Regions from separate parts of the Homo sapiens genome. Here region 1 is linked to region 2. Evidence: fine-mapped expression QTL. A gene starts in region 2. The other region holds a variant in brackets. All regions are shown on one strand. Distances are from middle to middle. Region 1 has its middle 6.1 kb from the start of SLC38A11. Region 2 holds the start of SCN3A (sodium voltage-gated channel alpha subunit 3).

Evidence for each region. PIP is the estimated chance that this variant, and not a neighbour inherited with it, causes the effect.
Region 1: its variant is the best candidate, but not a certain one, in a credible set for the expression of SCN3A in subcutaneous fat (GTEx, PIP 0.71).

What each region holds. Positions count from the first base shown.
Region 1 is chr2:164,960,109-164,963,042 of GRCh38, reverse strand. No RefSeq gene overlaps it. Among named protein-coding and RNA genes, the nearest start is that of SLC38A11, 6.1 kb to the right of the region's middle. The variant T/C (reference allele first, on the strand shown) is at 1,384.
Region 2 is chr2:165,202,701-165,205,634 of GRCh38, reverse strand. SCN3A (sodium voltage-gated channel alpha subunit 3) reads left to right here and starts at 1,585. Exons shown (of 28, transcript NM_006922.4): 1 at 1,585-1,812.

The DNA of each region.
Region 1 (2,934 bases), 240 kb after region 2:
GATCTGGAATATCCACCAGGGACCCAGACCCCTCTGTCTTATTATTCAGTCATCTTCAACATGAAGTTTCCAACAGGTGGTTGCTTCAGGGAAAAGCTCCAGCTTCAGCCATCATGTCTCTGCATTCTGGCCAGTGAGAAGGAGCAAAAGAAAGGTAAGGCATTATTTTCCTTCTCATTAAGGACTTACAGTTCACCTGCATCTTCTTCTTGGTCAAACTTAGCTGTATGACCACAACCGGTTACAAGTAAGGATGTATATTTCAGTTCTCTTTCCAGGTAGCCACAGTCAAGACCAAAATCAGAGTCTCTTTCAGGGTGGAGGAAGAGAAAATAAATATCTAAAGCCAAATAGCAGTTTCTCTTGCACCAAAATTCCCTCTATCTTATATGATTTTGGCCTAACGAAGTATTTTTCTGTTTGGATATATCAGCAGAAAACATTAATCAGAGCTTATTACAGGCCAAGCAAATAACTAAATACTTTAAAAATAGTATTATGGATTAAATTGTGTCTCCCTGAAAAGAGATGTTGAAGTCCTAACCCCTACTACCTTAGAATGTGACCTTCTATGGAAATAGATGTAGGTGCACGTGTAGTCAAGTTAAGGTGAGGCCATTAGGGTGGGCCCTAATCCAATATGATAGGTATCCTAATAAAAAAAAAACGGAGGGGATAATTTGAACTCAGACACAGACAAGACATGCACAGAGGGAACAGTGTGTAGAGACACAGGGAAAATGCCATGTGAAGATGGAGGATTGTAGTGTTGCATCTACAAGCCAACCACAAGAAGCTAGGAAAGATTCTCCCTTGTAGGCTTCAGAGGGAGCATGGCTCTGCTATTGCCTTGATTTGGGACTCCTAGCCTTCAGAACTGTGAGACAATAAATTTCAGTTGTTTTAAGTCACCCAGTTTATGATACTTTATTAAAGCAGTTTTAGGAAACTAATAGAAGTCTAGGTCACCTCCAAAGTTACTAGATAGAAGCAATAAGTTCTAGTGTTCTATTATGCTGTGGGGTGGATATAGGTAACAATGTATTATCTATATTCAAAAAGATAGAAGGGAGGATTTTGAATGCTCATAACACAAATAAATGATAAATGAGGTGACGGATATCCTAATTATCCTAATGTGATCCTTACACATTTTATACATGTATCAAATATCACTCTGCACCTCATAAATATGTACAATTATTATATGTCAAAAATTAAAAAATTAGCTTATCTCATTTAATTCCCAAAACTACCACTTTGAGAGAGGTACTCTTAGTTTTCCCTTTCTACAAATAAGCACATTAAGGCTCAAAGAATAAAGGAACTTGCCAAGATCTCTTGAACTTTGATTCAGACCCAGTTTTTTTCTGATTCCAGAGC[T/C]TGAGCTCCCAATACACTATACTAACTAAATAACCCAAAGCACATGTTTTTAAGATCTGCATCCTTTCTCAGCTTGAATACTATAAGAGATAACTGTGAAGTGTTATGTACATATTAGGTGAGATTAGTACCCCATAGGTCCCCCCATCCTACCCCATAGGTAGCATGATATTGGAACCTATCATCCAAACAGGGACACTTCTGAGAATGACAAAGATGCTTGATATAGTTTGGATGTATGTCCCCACCCAAATTTCATATTGAAATGTAAACCCCAGTGTTGCAGGTGGGGCCTGGTGGGAGGTGAGTGGATCATGGGGGCAGATTTCTCATGAATGGTTTAGCACCATCCTCATGGTACTGTCCTCGCCATAGTGAGTTCTCTTGAGATCTGGTTGTTCAAAAGTGTGTAGCAACTCTCTGGCTCCCTTGCTCCTGCTTTGCCTCCTGCCATGACCTTAAGCTTCCAGAGGCCTCCCCAGAAGGAGATACCAGTGTGATGCTTCCTGTACCTCCTGCAGAACCATGAGCCAATTAACCTCTTTTCTTTATAAATTACCCAGTCTCAGGTATTTCTTTATAGCAATGCAAGAATGGATTAATACAATGCTACTTATGATTACATTGGGACAGGAAGCCTAAATGACAACTATCTTGGGCAAACCAGGGCTTACTCACATGCTAATACTTACCTTATTGCTCAGTGTCCCATCCACTCTGACTCCTAACCAGAAATGTCACCGTAGCAGACTTACAGAATTCTAATAATTACAGTTAGAAAACATGAAAATACCTTAATTATGCAATAGTAATAATAATAATATGGTAGCACACAAATAATGTATTATTTCATGAGTAATATACAGAGCACATAAAATAATTACAAAAATGATGTTTAAGGTGATGAATCCTAAAAAAAGATATATTTTGATTATTTAGTTGAACATATTAGAGAAGACTTCCCAACAAAGATTGAGACATCTACCTCTGGAAAATTTAAAAAGAGAGAAAGTAAGGTTTAGCTTGTTTGAAACTCTAAATATTGGTGCTCTGTTTGTTACAGCAATGAAGCCAATAACCGAATACTGTGGAGAATGTCACGCATCCAGTTTTTCACAAAAAACAAAAGTACTCCTCTTAGACTCATTTCTAAGGTGGAGGAAAAAGTCACTCTTTCCCAGAGATATGTATTGAAAATTATTATATCTAGTCTCATCCAAATTTGGACTTCAATAATATCAGAAAGGAGTCAGATTACACATCAGGAAGAGCTTTCTAAATTTGAATTTCTGCCAAGATAGAGCCTTCTTTTATTATTTCTAAGAGAGCTGGGTAACCTTGGAAGTCACCTCGCCTGGACTGTAACCAAATAATAATGAAACATAATAATTCTACAAAGGCTTAGCGTATGATCTACATAATTATATAATTTGATAAAAAGCTCAAATTAGGGCTCTCTATATTTGTGAAAGTCCAGTTCCCATAGCCTCTGTCTGGGGCTAAGACAGACTCAATAAAACTATTTTTGCACATGTGAATATGCACTTCAAC
Region 2 (2,934 bases):
TGCAGAGTGCATTACATCCCATGGTTTACAAACAGCAGAACAGAGATGGCTGTGTGAGGCGCCTGGGGCAGGGAGGAAGGCTTAAGTCAGCCAATTACAGCCAAGAGTGACCCTGGGAACATGCTGCTTTTTCTTCTCTCCTCCTAAAGGACAGGAACAAAAGTTTCCTTAGAGGAAGAAGTGACAAAGAGGGGATGCTGCCATGCAAAGCTGGAGGGATGCTATTCCCGGGGCCCAGTGGGCCTGTGGGTACGTTAGTAGATATGAGGGATAATGATGGTCATGGATCATGCAGGACTCCTGGCCTCAGTGGATGCCCATGTGGAGAAAGGGGGAACGGGATCATACTCTGCTTTCTCTATATATGTACACAATCCTGAACTTAGATCAGTCTCCATGAGAAGGAGAGATAGAAGAGGAAAATCATGTATTGGTTGAATGCAAACCCAAAATCATTGGGAAAAGCCTCAAGTAATTTAGTTTACCTGGAACTGACTAGATTTATTTTTCTGCCATTAGACAAAATGGGGGCCACAATTGAAAACGAAGTATGTAATTAACAGTTCTTGAACACATGGCTGGGAAATATGGTATCAGCTATATTTGTTTTTCTTCTTTGTATGAGCTCCTTTATGGCAGGCACTGTGTGTTTCTCTCTGTGTCTTTTCAAGTCTAATATAATACTTGACATCATTTTTGTCCATCCATACAGTTGGTTTGTCAATATGAATGTATTTATTTAATTGATGATAAACTGTAATAAAATCATAGTTGTTTGCTCTAAAGTAGATATGAAAGGTCAGATGAAACAATAACATACATCTGGATTGAGAAATATCTTAATAACTGATGGATTATTTTTATTTTCTTTATGTATTGTGTGCTTCAATATCCTAATAAATAATATTAGCTAGGTTCACTGATGTATAGAATCTTTTTCTACATTTAGATATTTCTTGCAAATGTTTTACCAGAAAGCAACACAAAAATACTATCAGTGAGTATGTGTTTACACTGTTCTCTAAGGAGTCAAATTCCTCACCTTGAAAATAATTCATCCCAGGAAGAGAAAAGGTTTTCAAAAGACTAGAGCAGGCCACAAGGGAGCTTTCGCAAAACTCTACACGTAAAGGGTAATGTAAACTTAAAACCTATTTTTCAAACAGTAATTTATATATCTTTTAATTTTAGTAGTTTATGTGTGAAACAATCATGCAAAACAACAAAGTGATAAAATTTTTTAAAAAAATTAGTGAGATGCAAATAACTGAATATGTAAAAGGTCTCATACATATTTATATGTAGTAGATAAGTTACATTTTTTTAGTGTGTTGGGAAATTTTAGCTCACATCACCTCTCTACTGTCATCTTGGGGCACTTTCATGACTACCCATGCTTCATGCAGGTTTACTTTCCTCCCTGTGACAGAGGATAATGGGAATGTTTTTTCTTTGGCTCAATTTTGTGTGTGTCCGCCAGTAGATGGCGGTACCACTTTGAGTGCGATCGGCCTTTTTTTCTTTCTTTTTTTTTTTCCTCAAAGCTGTTTTCTGATATATGTTGGGTACCATAGAGTGAATCTCAGAACAGGAAGCGGAGGCATAAGCAGAGAGGATTCTGGAAAGGTCTCTTTGTTTTCTTATCCACAGAGAAAGAAAGAAAAAAAATTGTAACTAATTTGTAAACCTCTGTGGTCAAAAAAAAAAAAAAAAAAAAAAGCTGAACAGCTGCAGAGGAAGACACGTTATACCCTAACCATCTTGGATGCTGGGCTTTGTTATGCTGTAATTCATAAGGCTCTGTTTTATCAGGTAAGCTGACAAAACATTTCATTATCTGCACCATAGAACCTAGCTACCAGGTCATTTTCCTTACTTTAAAATCATCTTCATGCTGCTATTTTTAACCCAGTGTTGTTTAAATGTAAATTACAGGAACCAAAGGCATCGTTTGATGTGTAAACTGCTTACTATTTCTTTATCTTTCAAAGAAAATAGAGCCTGTCTGGAAATGGTGATTTATGGTACATACTAGGCATCAATGGTCTTGTGTTTTTGTAGATGCTTATGATTAATTGTATTCAGAAAAAATATTTTTTATTATACTTAAAGCTAGTCTAATGAGTTTCCTGGCTGTATGTCATCTATTTAAATGCCCAGTGTGTCCAGTATTTTTTAAACATAAATGTATAGTGAAATTGGAACTATCATTCTTGTGCTTTAGTTTTTTATTTAACAGCTTTAGAGAGGCCATGCATATAGGGAGTGATAACAATATAGAGGTGTTTGGCTTTGTGAAATACACTATCATTTTTCTCTAAAATCTGTTTTCATAGAGAAAAGAACACCAATACTAACCATTTAAAAGAGGTTGAACCTTCAAAAAATAAAATAATCTCTATATGTTCCATAATATGCTACTTCTTTATCCTTTAATATATTCATTTTATATTAAATGTTTACCTTTTAATTTATTGATTTAAAGATTATTATATATTCTTAATTGTTCTATAAGCTTGATAGATTGCTGTTTTTCTGTATATATTTAATAACTGTTTATTTTTATTAATTACCAGGAAGAACCACTGGAGCCATAAAACAATAATTTACTTTATCTATGATCCATATTGTCTGTAGTTGTATTTAGAATATTCTATATCATAACCATAAATGTTTCATTCAGTTAGCCACCACATAATTAGAATAAGAAATTATTGACAGAAAATCTATACATATTAATTGAAAGATAAGTTTTAAAAATCATACAGGGTTTTAAAATACACAACAGGTAGTATAATGTGGCTTATGAGGACAAAGATAAAGGCATAAGTGCTTGTAGGAATTTGCATGGAAACATTTCATCACATTCACTCCAAATAGAGTGTGCCCTATATGAAATGAAGACTTCTGATTTCAACAGGGCTTCCAGTCAGT